Regions from separate parts of the Homo sapiens genome. Here region 2 is linked to region 1. A link means that fine-mapping ties the variant in region 1 to the expression of a gene that starts in the linked region. Tissue or cell type: cerebellar hemisphere. Region 1 holds a variant in brackets; the other region holds the start of a gene. All regions are shown on one strand. Distances are between the middles of the regions.

What was found. PIP is the estimated chance that this variant, and not a neighbour inherited with it, causes the effect.
Region 2: LINC01252 starts here. The variant in region 1 is fine-mapped to the expression of LINC01252 in cerebellar hemisphere (GTEx, PIP 0.96).

What each region holds. Positions count from the first base shown.
Region 1 is chr12:12,289,069-12,297,173 of GRCh38, forward strand. It overlaps the pseudogene RNU6-318P. Among named protein-coding and RNA genes, the nearest start is that of LRP6, 26 kb to the left of the region's middle. The variant C/T (reference allele first, on the strand shown) is at 3,267.
Region 2 is chr12:11,544,047-11,552,151 of GRCh38, forward strand. It overlaps LINC01252 (long intergenic non-protein coding RNA 1252), which reads left to right and starts at 3,984. Exons shown (of 8, transcript NR_033890.1): 1 at 3,984-4,314; 2 at 5,544-5,675. All of the region lies in intron 2 of LOC124902877 (a long non-coding RNA gene), which reads right to left. It also overlaps the pseudogene RNU7-60P. RefSeq lists an enhancer at 460-519.

The sequences.
Region 1 (8,105 bases):
ATGGTGAAACCCCTTCTGTACTAAAATTAGCCAGGCATGGTGGCATGTGCCTGTAATCCCAGCTAAGGCTGAAGCAGGAGAATTGTTTGAACCCAGGAGGTGGAGGTTGCAGTGAGCCGAGATCACGCCACTGCACTCCAGCCTGAGCAACAGAAAAAAAAAAAAAGGAATGCTTCACGAATTTGTGTGTCATCCTTAAGCAGGGGGCATGCTAATCTTGTATCATTCCAATTTTTGTATATGTGCTGCCGAAGCCATCACCAAAGCATTTGTTTCTTTGACTGTATTGTGAACTGAATGTTTGTGCCCCCCAACAATTATATGTTAAAATACTAACACTGAAGGTGAGGGTAGTAGGAGGTGGCATCTTTATAACGTGATTAGGTCATAAGGGGGAGCCCTTACAAATGGTATCAGTAGATACCATTTGTGGATATCTACTGTGGGTGCAGTGGCTGATGCCTATAACCCCAGCACTTTGGGAGGCCAAGGCAGACGGATCATGAGGTCAAAAGATCGAGACCATCCTGGCCAACATGGTGAAACCTCGTCTCTACTAAAAATATGAAAATTAGCTGGGTGTAGTGGCTCACACCTGTAGTCCCAGCTACTCGAGAGGCTGAGGCAGGAGAATCGCTTGAATCCGGGAGGCAGACGTTACAGTGAGCCGAGATTGTGCCACTGCACTCCAGCCTGGTGACAGAACGAGACTGTCTAAAAAAAAAAAAAATCAAAAACAAACAACAACAACAACAAAAAAAAACAAATGGTATTAGTTTCCTTATAAGAAGAGACACGAGAGAGGTGATATTTTTTTCTCTCCCATATGAGGATACAATGAGAAGATAGCCATCTACAAACTAGAAAGAGTGCCCTCACAAGACACCAGATCTGTCAGCCACCTAATCTTGGACTTCCCAGTCTCTAGAACTGTGAGAAATACATGCTTGCTGTTTAAAATGTTTATTCTTTAAGCCACTTGCTCTATGGTATTCTGTGATAGCATTCTGAATGAAAACAGGCTGTCTCTTCCAGAATATGTTATGCTTCTTTGTAAGGCATCTTTTCATCCCAGTCTGTTGTAGAATTCCTGGCATGTAGTAGGCAAGTAATAAAGCTATGCAAGCAGATCAAATGGTGCTAGGACTCTGTAAGAATTTTTCTCAGTTCCCTTCCACAGATCTCTTGCCAGAGAGAAAAGGTTCCCCTCAGGGCAGCAAGGTAGAAGACTCAAGAAGTGAGCAGAGTTGAGATCATAGAAGGCTTGGCTTTCCATGCTTAGGGGTGCAGGCTTTCATGTGTTTGCAATGGAGAGTCATTAACAGGACAAAAAAAAAATCGGTGGCCCTTTGTCTATGAACTCAATAAGAGCCTGGGCAAGAAAAAAAGAAATGTAGGTAACCAGCCCAGCAAGAATAGCAACAAAGAGGCAACACTCAAGCCTCCTAGTATGTCTAGAGTTCTGTACACCCTCCTCAGGGCTAGAAGGGCCTCAGTGTCTGAGTCTACCTGAGCCCACAGGTGGAAGAACAAAACAGGAAACATTTCCTGACCCAAGAAAATAGTTTAAATTGCAAAGGCACACATTACAGTTAGGTACAATATAAACAATTCCCTGGCACATTTATTGTCAAACTTTAGTGTACGTCAGAATCACCTGTAGGGCTTGTTAACACAGAGATTGCTGAGTCCCATCCTCAGAGATCTGATTCAGTAGGTTTGAGATGTGGCCTGGGAATCTGCATGTCTAACAAGTTCCTAGGTGGTGCTGCTGGTCTGGAGACAATGCTTCTAGGACCACCACTCCAGAACCCACTCCACCTCTCTCTCATCAACGGATAACTTGCCTGTCCTTGATTCAAGGCTTGCCTCTTTCCTTGCTAACAACATCCCTCAATCTCCTTTCAGGGACTCATTCTCCTTTGGACATTTTCAGATCTGTGCTATGGGTGGGGAGGACAAAATAACACCTTCCCTCATCAGAGCTACCTTAACCCTCACTCTACTTCTGGCTTTTTCTTACAACTTCAAAAATTGTTTGTGGCCGGGCGTGGTGGCTCACGCCTGTAATCCCAGCACTCTAGGAGGCCGAGGCAGGTGGATCACCTGGGGTCAGGAGTTCGAGACCAGCCTGGCCAACGTGGCAAAACCCCGTCTCTACTAAAAATACAAAAATCAGGCGGGCGTGGTGGTGCGCGCCTGTAATCCCAGCTACTCTGGAGGCTGAGACAGGAGAATCGCTTGAACCCAGGAGGCAGATGTTGCAGTGAGCCGAGATCGCACCACTGCACTCCAGCCTGGGTGACAGAGCAAGACTCTGTCTCAAAAAAAATACAAAAATAAAAATTGTTTTTATTGACTACTTTCATTTTCTCACCATTCATTCTCTCTTTAACCTCTTGTAATCTTTCTTTTATCCTGTCTAGCACTCTGTTATTCATAAAGAGTATTTATAAGCTGGGCGCGGTGGCTTATGCCTGTAATCCCAGCACTTTGGGAAGCCGAGGCAGGTGGATCATTTGAGGTCAAGAGTTCGAGCCAGCCTGGCCAACATGGCGAAACCTCGTCTCTATTGAAAATACAAAAATTAGTTGGGTGTGGTGGCACGCGCCTGTAATCCCAGCTACTCGTGAGGCTGAGGCAGGAGGATGGCTAGAACCTGGGAGGCTGAGGTTGCAGTGAGTGGAGATAGTGCCACTGCACTCCAACCTGGGCGATAGAATGAGACCCTGTCTTAAAAAAAAGAAGCACAAGAAGAGATTGCCCTTCTTGCCTTTGAGTACAGTTTTCCTGAAGATGTGAATGGTTGAAGCTGTGACAGCCATTTTGTTAGAATGAAGGCTTACATCTGAGCACAAAACGCAACACATTGAGGATGCCAAAGCAGAACGTTGAGAAGCATCTGGGTTATCAACATCATTTTGCAACTAATTAACCAATTCCAGAATTACCTGTCTTCAGACTTCTTGCTATGTGTAATGATAATCCCCTATTTTTTTCTTTGAGCTGGTGCTTTTCTTTTTTCTTTTTCTTTTTCTTTTTTTTTTCTTTTTGAGACGGAGTCTCGCTCTGTCGCCCAGGCTGGAGTGCAGTGGCGCGATCTCGGCTCACTGCAAGCTCCGCCTCCCGGGTTCACGCCATTCTCCTGCCTCAGCCTCCCAAGTAGCTGGGACTACAGGCGCCCACCACCGCGCCCGGCTAATTTTGTTTTTGTATTTTTAGTAGAGATGGGGTTTCACCGTGTTAGCCAGGATGGTCTGGATCTC[C/T]TGACCTCGTAATCTGCCCGCCTCGGCCTCCCAAAGTGCTGGGATTACAGGCGTGAGCCACTTTGCCCGGCCGCTTTTCTTTTCTTTTCTTTTCTTTTTTTTTTTTTTTTGAGACAGAGTCTCACTCTGTCGCCTCTGGCTGGAGTGCAGTCGTGCGATCTCAGCTCACTGCAACCTCTGTGCCTCCTGGATTCAAGCGATTCTCCTGTCTCAGCCTCCTGAATAGCTGGGATTACAGGAGCCCGCGACCACACCCAGCTAATTTTTGTATTTTTTTTAGTAGAGACGGGTTTTCACCAAGTTGGCCAGGCTGGTCTCAAACTCCCGACCTCAGGTGATCCACCCGCCTCGGCCCCCCAAAGTGTTGGGATTAAAGGAGTGAGCCACCGCTCCAGGCTCACCCCTTTAGAATCTACTTGCTACTCTGAGTACCTTCTTACAAATGCAATTGCGGTGCTTCTCACAGATTCATTTAAAAAAAAAAAAAAAAGAGGCCGGGCGCGGTGGCTCACGCCTGTAATCCCAGCACTTTGGGAGGCCGAGGCGGGCGGATCACGAGGTCAGGAGATCGAGACCATCCTGGCTAACACGGTGAAACCCCGTCTCTACTAAAAGCACAAAAAATTAGCCGGGCGTGGTGGCAGGCGCCTGTAGTCCCAGCTACTCGGGAGGCTGAGCCAGGAGAGTGACGTGAACCCAGGAGGCGGAGCTTGCAGTGAGCCAAGATTGCGCCACTGCACTCCAAAGACTTAAAGTCCAATGTTAAAAAAGGGAGAAAATTACCCAGGATATTTTGTATCCTGAGTATACGTTATATAGAGATTGGTGGTGGTGGTGATTTTTGTTGCATTTGGGAGTTGCTATGAAAGTTGAGGGACTAATTTTTTTTTTCTTTTTGCTTAGGCAAACTCCTGAAAACTACTTCTCTTCCTATTTTCATGCAGAGAAACTTAATTTCTCCTTGCCTTTTCTCCCCCTGTGGAGTTAAAAATAGTATGGATGCATTTATTTTGTGTCAATTTCCATTAGGATGCCTGCAGATACTAACAGATTCTTCAAAGTCCAAAAAGCAACCTCAGATTTTCACATTGGGGTAAGTGGAAAATAGAAGGCCCTTGATTCCTATTAACTAACCTGATTGGGTATCACCATTGTTTTCATTGCTAATAATTGTTTTCCAATGAGAATATGAATATTTTTATTTTAATGGAAGTTTTATACCTACAGTAAATTCATAGGCATTAGTTCATTCACTACTAAAATGTATACTTCTCTGAACTCAGACACACAGGCCATTTAACAGGATACATGTGACATAATAAATTAAAGTGACATGAAAATGAAAGTTTCATCTATTTAGAACTGCAGAGAAGATTTCAGGTTGTCAGATTATATGTTATTACTAAGTCTTGGTTATTGAGGTTAGTGCAGTAAATTGATTGAGTGCTTCATTTAAAATACTAATTGAGCACCTGTCTGTAAACAGCAGTTAGGCAATATGGGTGAATACTAAAAAGGTAACTTTGGTAATATTGGGAATACTAAAAATATATACAGAGAGAACGAGCACGAAAGTTTCATTAAAGAAAAGTGTAATGGAAGACATTTGACATATACATAAGAAAAACTCATTAATAATGAAAAGCAACCATACAAGAAATTTAGAGAAGCAGAGTGCCGAGGGAGTGGGGGCGGTGGGAGGCGGTAAGTGCTAAGCATCGGTCCCCTCAGCAGTTTGAATGATTTTATGAAGCAGGTAAGATTCCTTCATAGGAAGCTGAGAGAGGGTGAGGGTAAGTGGAGGGGCTTGGATGATCACAGTATGAAAAAATGGGAAAAATGGAAGGAAGACTATTCTATTCAAGAAGACCTAACAGCAAAGCCATGCTCATGGACCAGTGACTAGGCCAATCTGACCAGAGCAGAGATTTCAGATGGGAAAAAGCGTGAAAATCATATTTTAGTAGCGTTGGAAAATATCTAAGATTTCATCAGCAAGTTTCCTGGAAGAGATTGAGACTGGAAGGTTAGTTTGATTTATCAGTGTCTAGTAAAGTTGAAAACACACATACGATATGTTCTAGTCAATGCTTGGCAGGAAACAGAATGAGCTCTCACCCTGGGTAATTGAGGACAATTCAATAAAAGAACTATTTACCAAAATGTGGGCAGGGTTAATGGCAACCTTAAAAAGCAACAAGGGTAGCAATAGCAGGGGAGCCTGGGGGACTTCATTGCTGCCCCCAGGCCTGAAGAGGCAAAGAGAGGGAATGGTGATCAGAACTGCAGAACACAGGGAGAATAGCAGGGGCAGTAGGAGAGCTCCTTGACAGGAGGCCTTTGGTGGAGGAATGCAGCCAACCCACAGAGGCCCAGCAGGACGGGAGCCAGGAGAATAAATGCCCAGATCACACTCTCCTCCCACCCTCTGCTTTCCTGCTGGCATCTTCCAGAGGCCAAATCCAACAAGAAGTCAGAGGGAAAGGAAATTCATGGCTAGCAGTTCATAAAGGTCAGCTTCCTGGGGCCAATGCAGGGAGGAAGAAAGAGAAGATCAGAGGAGCAAATGGAAAACATCCAGTATACCACGTGACCCACAATTCTGTTACAGGACCACAACACTACCCCAAAGGTAGCCATTGGGTCAGGGTTTCTGCACTATAGTCCCATCTGGGTTGCCAGAAATATGTTACAAGGAAGGGGTCCCGATCTAGACCCCAAGAGAGGGTTCTTGGATCTCGCGCAACAAAGAATTCAGGGCGAGTTCGCAGTGCAAAGTGAAAGCAAGTTTATCAAGAAAGTAAAGAAATAAAAGAATGGCTACTCCATAGAGCAGCCCAGAGGGCTGCTGGTTGCCTGCTTTTATGGTTATTTTTGAGGTTATGCTAAACAAGGGGTGGATTATTCATGCCTCCCGTTTTTAGACTACATTAGGGTCACTTCCTGACGCTGCCATGGCATTTGTAAACTGTCATGGCGCTGGTGGGACTGTAGCAGTGAGGACGAGCAGAGGTCACTCTCGTTGCCATTTTGGTTTTGGTGGGTTTTGGCTGGCTCTTTTACCGCAAGCTGTGTTTGTTTGTTTGTTTGTTTTGAGACGGAGTTTCGCTCTTGTTGCCCAGGCTGGAGTGCAATGGAGCGATCTCGGCTCACCGCAACCTCCGCCTTCCGGGTTCAAGCGATTCTCCTGCCTCAGCCTCCGGAGTAGCTGGGATTACAGGCATGCGCCACCACTCCTGGCTAATTTTGTATTTTTAGTAGAAACGGGGTTTCTCCATGTTGGTCGGGCTGGTCTCCAACTCCCGACCTCAGGTGAGGTCTCCCAAAGTGCTCGGCCTTCCAAAGTGCTCGGCCTTCCAAAGTGCTCGGATTACAGGAGTGAGCCACCGCGCCCGGCCTTACTGCAAACTGTTTTATCAGCAAGGTCTTTATGACCTGTATTTTGTGCTGACTTCCTATCTCATCCTGTAACTTAGAATGCCTTAACCTTCTGGGAATGCATTCCAGTAAGTTTCAGCTCATTTTACCCAGCTTCTATTTAAGATGGAGTTGCTCTGGTTCACACGCCTCTGACAATTCTACTCTAAATTTCACACCGTATAGAAACTTCCACGTGTGCAAAAGGACAAGCACAAATATTGTCTTGCAGCATCGTTTTTAGTAGCTCTAAATTGGGGAAAAACTGAATGTTCATCAATACGGGGCTACGTAAATTGAGGTGTATTCATTGATAGAATGTAGTGCAGCCATTAAAATGAATGAACTGGATATATATAAGCATTTGTGTGTGTTTGTGCACGCGTGCACATGCATGTTTTAGAGGGATACATGTAGTATGACATACTGAATAAAAATATTTAAAACACACAGAAAAAGCAATTGTATATTGTTTCTACCTACATGTTATGTAATAGAAGTATAAAAACATGAGTAAGGCCGGGCACGGTGGCTCACACCTGTAATCCCAGCACTTTGGAAGGCCGAGGTGGGTGGATCACAAGGTCAAGAGATGGAGACCATCCTGGCCAACATGGTGAAACCCTGTCTCTACTGAAAATACAAAAATTAGCTGGGCATGGTGGCACGTGCCTGTAGTCCCAGCTACTCGGGAGGCTGAGGCAGGAGAATCACTTGAACCCGGCAGGCGGAGGTTGCAGTGAGCTGAGATTGTGCCACTGCACTCCAGCCTGGCAACAGAGCCAGACTCTGTCTCAAAAAAAAAAAAAAAAAAAAAGAGTAAAAGAATATATGAAGTCGCCTGTAATCCCAGCACTTTGGGAGGCCGAGTCAGGCAGATGACTTGAGGTCAGGAGTTCGAGACCAGCCTGGCCAACATGGCGAAACCCTGTCTCTACTAAAAATACAAAAAAATTAGCTGGGCATGGTGGTGTGTTCCTGTAACCCCAGCTACTCAGGAGGCTGAGGCAAGAGAATCGCTGGAACCCAGGAGGTGGAAGTTGCAGTGAGCTGAGATTGCACCACTGCACTCCAGTGTGGGCAACAGAGCGAGACTCTGTCTCAGAAAAAAAAAAGAATACATGAAATCAGAGAAACTCAAATTGTGATAGTAGTTTCTTCTGGTGAAGGAAGAAAAGAGAATGATATCAGGGAAGATGAAAAAAGAGACTGTATTAGTAAGGCTTCTCCAGAGAGAAAGAATCAACAGGATCAATGGATGCATAGGTAGATAGATAGATAGATAGATAGATAGATAGATAGATAGATAGATAGACAGACAGACAGACAGACAGACAGACAGATGAGAGGGGATTTATTAGAGGAATTAGCTCAAGTGATATGGAGGCTGAAAAATCTCATGACAGTCCATCTGCAAGCTGG
Region 2 (8,105 bases), 750 kb before region 1:
CAGGAGTGTGGAGGGGCACAGGTCAGCACCAGGATGCACCAAGGGCACCTGGGAAGTGCTGAGGGCCAGGCCACACTTAACTCGGGTCTGTGCCCTGCAGTGGGAAGAAGCCTCAGAGTATTTTCATCCTGCGAATCTCCTCTGTGCAAGAAAAGACCAGTTGATGTCCTTGAAAACTTTCCTATTTGACCAGTTCATTCTTATTTCAAAATTTTATATTATTATATTTTTTAGAGACAGGGTCTCGCTATGTTGCCCAGGCTGGACTCGAACTCCTGAGCTCAGTGAGACTCCCACCTCAGCCTCCTGAGTTGCTACCATGCCCAGCTTGCCCAGTTCATTTTTAATGAGGCCAAACACATTGGTCATGCAGCTCACAAACAAAAGGGAATGTCTGTAGTTCTGGTCAGTCACAAACTCATTGTACTTTACAGAGAAAACTCCATGCAGAATGTTGAAATATCATCCTCTAAAGGTTGACTCTAAGTATACAGAAGCAGTGTAGGGGCACAGACAGCTCAGTTGAGCACTCAGCACATCAAACAAGAAAGCATGTGGTGGTTTCCCTCTACCCAGAGCAGGGTCTGATACGGAGGAGCAAGCCTGGACTTTGTCCTTGGGCAAATTGCCCCATTAGGGGAGGAAGGAGCCCACTCTCCAGACTTTCTGGTTTGAAGCAGTACCTGGGTCTGAGCAGAGTGAGGAACACTTCCTGCTACAGCCAAACTAGACTAGCCTGGGCCCTGAGATCCATGACCTCACATGTGCCTTTTTCTCCAGGCACACTGGAAAGCTTAGTCCCCCCGCCCCCGTGACTGTCTGTTCCCGAGATAGTCCCTTTGCATGGAGAATCCGTGCCCATCCCACCCACCCCCACACCATAAAAAGTCAATGTTAGAAGGTTTGAATGGATTTAGTGATCATGCACTCCAACCCTGCCTATCTGTTCATCAAAGTCCACTTCAAATACCACTTTATAAAGACATTGTGGTTCTTCTGTCTCCCAATTCATTATTACTTTGGTGCTCTGTTATGGTATACATCACATTCAGTCTTGTATTAGAGTTGTTTGTGTACATATTTTCTGCCCTCACTCCAAGGCCAGCTTAAAACTTATAAATCTTAAAATATTTTGGCCTCCTAAAAATTAAACAGTATCATTCATAGTTTCCACTATTAAATATTTTATGCTTTTGGAATAAAATATGTCATTCTTCACCCCCTCTCCCAAAAACCCCAAAACTTTGTTCCTCTGCTTTTCTAGTTTCCCGTGTGCTGCTTAGTGGGTTTTCCAGCAGCCCTGGTCCCAAGCACATGAGGGACTGTTAGCATTTTCAAGACAAAAGTATCCTTAACTCCTCTTCATGAGCCTGCGAAGATTAAACACGGAGCTCAGAACACAGTATGAACACAATAGATGTATGATGAAATGAATAGGGCTAGCATTAACTAATGAGAGCTCCTCAATGATGAGCAAGAAGAAGGTGAAATCATGCCATCCAAGGCTTCCCAGTGCCCCTGGAGACCACACAGCCCCTTTACACAGGAAATGACGTGATTCCTGATAAGCAAGCAGTACACACTGCACAGCTTCCTTCCCTTCCTCCCCCTGCCACTCAGCACCTTTGGCAAATAGCGGCCTGCCTTCAGCCTTCATTAGGAAAGCCTTCATTAGGCCTGCCTTCTTCTCTTCATTCATGAGAGAGTGGCATTAACAGTGCACAAACTAATGCTTCTTCAAATTTTTCTGGGGTCTGCTGCTGCTACTGCTAAAATCCGCTTGCCTTCGGACACAGTTTCTCAAATGGCTTAAAAGCTTCTCTGCTTTTGATCCCTGCAGCATCACTTTCTACTCCCTCAATCAGAAACCAGAAGCTACCCACCCCCATTTCCTGTGTTCATGATAGTAGAAAGCAACAGAGAACAGTTGGCCCCTGAGCTGCCAGGTTGTGGGCTGGGTAGGGAGGATCCATTGCAGGAGCATTGGAAAGCCTTGAGCACTCTGCCCTGCCTGTCCACACAGCAGCACCTTCACAGCCTTCTAGTAGTTCTGATCAGATTTCTGCCTCTTAAAGCGGCCCCACAGACTAAAAGCCATCATCTGGAATTTGGAGTAAAAGGGCCCACAGGAAATGAAGCACTCTAAGAAAATTCAGCTGGGCAGGTATTTTAAGGTCACTGACTGACTCCAAAGTGAAGGTAGAACCCATATTGACCGCAATTCATCACACTTCTGTAACTTCAGAACTCACTGCTGACTGGTGGAGAAGGTTGCAATTGCATTCAGTCCGAATCTCTGAACATATTATTTAGAAATATTAGCTTATCCAGCTGCCTACGGAGCTTCCCATCTGGGCTTTCAGTTGCTACATTCTCTAAAGCCGTATCTGACCCACACCTTACTAACACTATGTGCTTCTACAGCATTCACCCAGTGTTACAGCTCTTTTAGAATCTGTCTAGCAGGTTTTCCAGTCTTCACTGGAAAGCCCTTGCCCCCAAATATAAAAAAATAATAAGGCATTCACCCCTGAACTTTAGCAGGGCTTCCAATCGCCTTTAAGCACTCATTTAAAAGAAAAGTCTTTTATTCCCTTATAATAGTATTAAATCATTAGCAAATGATTCTCAAAACTATTTTTTGAGTGCTCTCTTCTGTGTGAGAATGTAGGAAATGATGACCAAGTATACGAAGTTGGACATGCCTAGTCCCAGGTGGCCTTTTCCTATTGGCACAGCTGCTGGCATTCACCCGTGCAAGCTTCTAGCTTGCTTGTCTATGTCTGCAGCTTGATTTTACAGGCTGCTCATTGTAAGAAAAGAAAACGATTTGAGGGCTGCTTTTCATTAAAAGGAAAACCTTACTGAGGACTTCCTTACCCTCACTATCTGCCTAAATAATTTCTTCTTAACTCCTATATCACTTATAAGAGGAGAAAGCAGACACACAGGGGGAACTCAGTGTGACAGCACAGGCGGAGCCTGGAGGGATGCCCAGGAATGCCAAAGAGACGCACAGACTGGTTTCTCTCTCACAGCCCCCAGAAAAACCTAACCCTGCCAGTGAGAGGTGACAGCGTGCTGGCAGTCCTCACAGCCCTGCTCGCTCTCGGCGCCTCCTCTGCCTGGGCTCCCACTTTGGCGGCACTTGAGGAGCCCTTTAGCCCACCGCTGCACTGTGGGAGCCCCTTGCTGGGCTGGCCAAGGCCGGAGCCGGCTCCCTCAGCTTGCAGGGAGGTGTGGAGGGAGAGGCGCGGGCGGGAACAGGGGCTGCGCGCGGTGCTTCCGGGCCAGCGCGAGTTCCGGGTGGGCGTGGGCTCGGCGGACCCAGCACTCGGAGCGGCAGGCCGGCCCCACCAGCCCGAGCAGTGAAGGGCTTATCACCTGGGCCAGCAGCTGCTGTGCTCAATTTCTCGCCAGGCTTTAGCTGCCTTCCCGCGGGGCAGGGCTCGGGACCTGCAGCCCGCCATGCCTGAGCCTCCCCCACCTCCGTGGGCTCCTGTGCAGCCGGAGTCTCCCCGACAAGCGCCACCCCCTGCTCCGCGGAGCCCAGTCCCATCGACCACCCAAGGGCTGAGGAGTGCAGGCACACGGCACCGCACTGGCAGGCAGCTCCACCTGCAGCCCCGGTGGGGGATCCACTGGGTGAAGCCAGCTGGGCTCCTGAGTCTGGTGGGGACGTGGAGAACCTTTATGTGTAGCTCAGGGATTGTAAATACACCAATGGGCACTCTGTATCTAGCTCAAGGTTTGTAAACACACCAATCAGCACCCTGTGTCTAGCTCAGGGTTTGTGAATGCACCAATGGACACTCTGTATCTTGCTACTCTGGTGGGGACTTGGAGAACCTTTGTGTGGACACTCGGTATCTAGCTAGTTTGGTGGGGACGTGGAGAACCTTTGTGTCTAGCTCAGGGATTGTAAACGCACCAATCAGCGCCCTGTCAAAACAGACCATTGGCTCTACCAATCAGCAGGATGTGGGTTGGGCCAGATAAGAGAATATAAGCAGGCTGCCCGAGCCAGCAGTGGCAACGCGCTCGGGTCCCCTTCCACACTGTGGAGGCTTTGTCCTTTCGCTCTTTGCAATAACTCTTGCTACTGCTCACTCTTTGGGTTCACACTGCCTTTATGAGCTGTAACACTCACCGCGAAGGTCTGCAGCTTCACTCCTGAAGCCAGCGAGACCACGAACCCACCAGAAGGAAGAAACTCCAAACACATCTGAACATCAGAAGGAACAAACTCCGGACACGCCGCCTTTAAGAACTGTAACACTCACGCGAGGGTCCGCGGCTTCATTCTTGAAGTCGGTGAGACCAAGAACCCACCGATTCCGGACACACCAGCACCCGGATCTCAGACCTCTGGCCTCCGGAACTGTGAGAGAGTAACTTTCTGCTGTTTTAAGATACCCAGCTTGTGGTCATTTATTACAGCAGCCCTAGCAAACGAACCCAGTGTGGTTTGCAACTTCAGTTATAGCATCTACCATCAGCCCAATTCAAAAGACCATTTATTTAATCAGCAACGTTTCCCCCGTCACTCCTTATGGGGCAGTATCCACTGTAGGCTACTGATTCTACTTAGTGCTTTAAGTCAGCGTTGCCAGAATCATACTGAAACACATACCTGGGGCTTCTAGGGCATCTCCTAGTCAGCCTTGTCAAAATCAACAGTTTTGAAAATACGCTCTATGGCAGTCCTGAATTCCACAGGGGTGGAATTCAGAGCCGCTCTCCTCTTGTTTGTCGTATTTTATAAAATGGATATTTAATTCTGTTTCACTATTTGCTTTCATTACTAAAATTTCCCAAAATACATGAAAATAGAGGGTACTCGAAAAACCCAACTTTAAATAAAATAACCGTGAGTATTCTGCCATACTTGTTTCTGTGTTAATATAAGAATTTATTTGAAGAGTTCTGCTATAATGTTTTTAAATACTGGTTTCAATAACTCTCTTCCAATACAGATTACACTTTGTTAGCTCCAATAATTGCTGCATGGTGAATTTAGTCTATTGAAAAGGAAGTGTCAGGTCTGAGTGCCAATTATTGTACTTGACCCAAGGTAACTCTCTTTCAAGGTACTGCGTTGGGTTCCCACTGAATTATTTTACCACATTCGAAATCCTTCATCAGAAATTCAATGTCTTTTATTATGATACATGAAATGATCTAATAAATCTCACTGCACACTGTTACTTTGATTTCTCCAATGAACCACACCTCTCAGAATGCACGCCCTTGTATAGTCCCCTCTCATGGTGACAGCAGGCTTAGCCTTGTGACTAGCTTTGACAATGGGGATATTAGCAAGCATGATGCAAGTGGATTCTGATAAGCTTGATGCTGTATTTATTTGCTTTGGCTGCCATAATAAATGATCACAAACTGGGTATCTTAAAACAGCTCCTTTTTCAGATGTTTCTCCACATTCTTCCAAGGCAAAAAGAAAAGAAAAAGAAATACACACAGACACATACATATATGTTTCAGTTCAATAAGTTTTTGTTGTGTTTTGTTTTGTTTTGTTTCAGACAGAGTCTTGCTCTGTCGCCCAGGCTGGAGTGATGAGGCGCGATCATCACTCCACCTGGGCTCACTGCACCTCCGCCTCCCGGGTTCAAGCGATTCTCCTGCTTCAGCCTCCTGAGCAGCTGGGATTACAGGTGAGTGCCACCATGCCCAGCTAATTTTTGTATTTTTCTTAGTAGAGACAGGGTTTCACCATTGTTCGTCAGGCTGGTCTCGAACTCCTGACCTCATGATCCACCCACCTCGGCCTCCCAAAGTGCTGGGATTACAGGCGTGAGCCACCGCGCCCAGCCTCAATAAGTATTTATTAAGTGTATAACACATGGCAGAAACTGTGCTAGATACTGAAACTATAATGGCAAAAATCAATTCCTGTCCTCTGAATTGGTTACCTAGTAGAGAAGACAGACATGTAAACAAATATAGTGGAGAGTGACATAGGCAATAATAAAACTATGTATAAGAAATCCAATTAGTATGGATAATTAACAACTAATGGTTGGAAAGAAGTGTCAAAAAAAGCTTCTTAGATACAGTGACACCTGAGCAGGATTTCTAAGGGTGCACTGGGGAAAGAGGTTCATAAATCAAGGGAGCATCATACTGAAATGGTAGTGATGGAACATGGTATATGCAGACAACTACAAAAATTCACTTCTACTGATAGTCCAAGGGAGGAAGGCATGAATATGAGAATGGAGGTATGGACAGAGGCCAGGTCAGGGTAAGTTAGAGAGCTTACTTAACCTTGTAGAAAATGACGAGCCATTGGAGACTTTAAAGAGAAATAACATAGTCATATTCTTGTTGTGAAAGATCATCTGGGCTGCTATGTGCAGGACAGATTACCAGGAACAAAACCAGAAGCACCTGTTCAAGCCTGAATTCTAGTCACAGAAGTAAAGCTGAAGAGGAGAAAATGGATGTGAGCAATATCCAAAAGGGAAAATAATAATATACACATAAGGAATAGGGAAGAGAAGAGCAAAAATAATTTCCTATTTCGCCTTCCCTTCTTTTGGAGTTGGAACACTCAAATGGTGTGATGGGTGGCACTGGGGCTAAGGGGACAAGGCTGGCCCAGCTGGGAGATTGCTTACATGCAGGAGGATCAAGTGAATGAGTCAACGTATCAAGGAGACTGGGAATGCAATTTCTCACTGTTGAAGAAAGGAGTTACAAATATGCAAAGGGGAAAATGTGATACTGGATTGGAATTGAAGGCATTAGTCCGAAGTTATGGATTTTAAAGATAGGAATGTGACAGATGATAGATAGGTAGGGATAGACAGGTAAATTGAGAAGTAGAAATGTATGAATGTGTTATATTTCCTAGTCCAGGAGCAATGACACCCCAGTTGCAATGAGCATCCTAGCATTTAGATCTCAGTTTCTAAATACCTTTTTCCACTAAAAGGAACCAGGGCTGGGGCAGGGAAAGAACAAGATGACCCTGGAACTCTATTGTACTGAAAGTAAGGAAGCCCTCAGATAATTATGAGGACATGTCTAAAGGACACAGGAGTGGCTCACGCCTGTAATCCCAGCACTTTGGGAGGCCAAGGCGGGTGGATCACAAGGTCAGGAGATCCAGACCATCCTGGGTAACACGGTGAAGTCCCATCTCTACTGACAATACAAAAAAATTAGCCAGGTGTGGTGGCGGGCGCCTGTAGTCCCAGCTACTCGGGAGGCTGAGACAGGACAATAGCGTGAACCCAGGAGGTGGAGCTTGCAGTGAGCCGAGATCACACCATTGTGCTCCAGCCTGGGCAATAGAGTGAGACTTCCTCTCAAAATAAATAAATAAATAAATAAACACAGGAGCCAACTTCATGGGGCTCCAGTTGTCCACATCTAGGTCATTTTGTGGATCAAAATAAAAAATGATAGTAACTGATTATAATTCATTGAAAAATCAAATCTCATGAATCCATACTTATATAATACATGAATGAATAAATATGAGAGAGAAGAGAGAGCTCTAACTTATAGTAAATGCCAACTAATCAATGTAAATATAATTATGGAATTAGAAAATTGTTATTATTTTGAGACAGGGTCTTGCTCTGTCACCCAGGTTGGAGTGCAGTGGTGCAGTCACAGTTCACTGCAGCCTCAACCTGCTGGGCTCAAGCAATTCTCCCACCTCAGCCTCCCAAGTAGCTGGGACTTCAGGCGTGTGCCACCACACGGCTATTTTTGTATTTTTTGTAGAAATGAGGTTTCATCATGTTGCCCAGGCTGGTCTCAACTCCTGGGCTCAAACAATCCACCTCAGCCTCCCAAAGTGCTGGGATAATAGGCATGAGCCACCACACCCAGCCAGAAAATTATTATTTTGCAACCATTATAGTTATAACTAATTTAGATAGAATCATCATTGGATGGAAAAGCTAGTAGGTGAAAATTTGATGAGGAAATGGATACAATCTCAAAGTATCTCCCCCAAAATATTTAGTGCTTATTAGTAGTTTAGAAATACAAATTACTTACTAGTTAGCTCTATAGCATAGAAACCTAGCCAATATCATCTTAATCGAGTGCTAACATATAATGTTGTC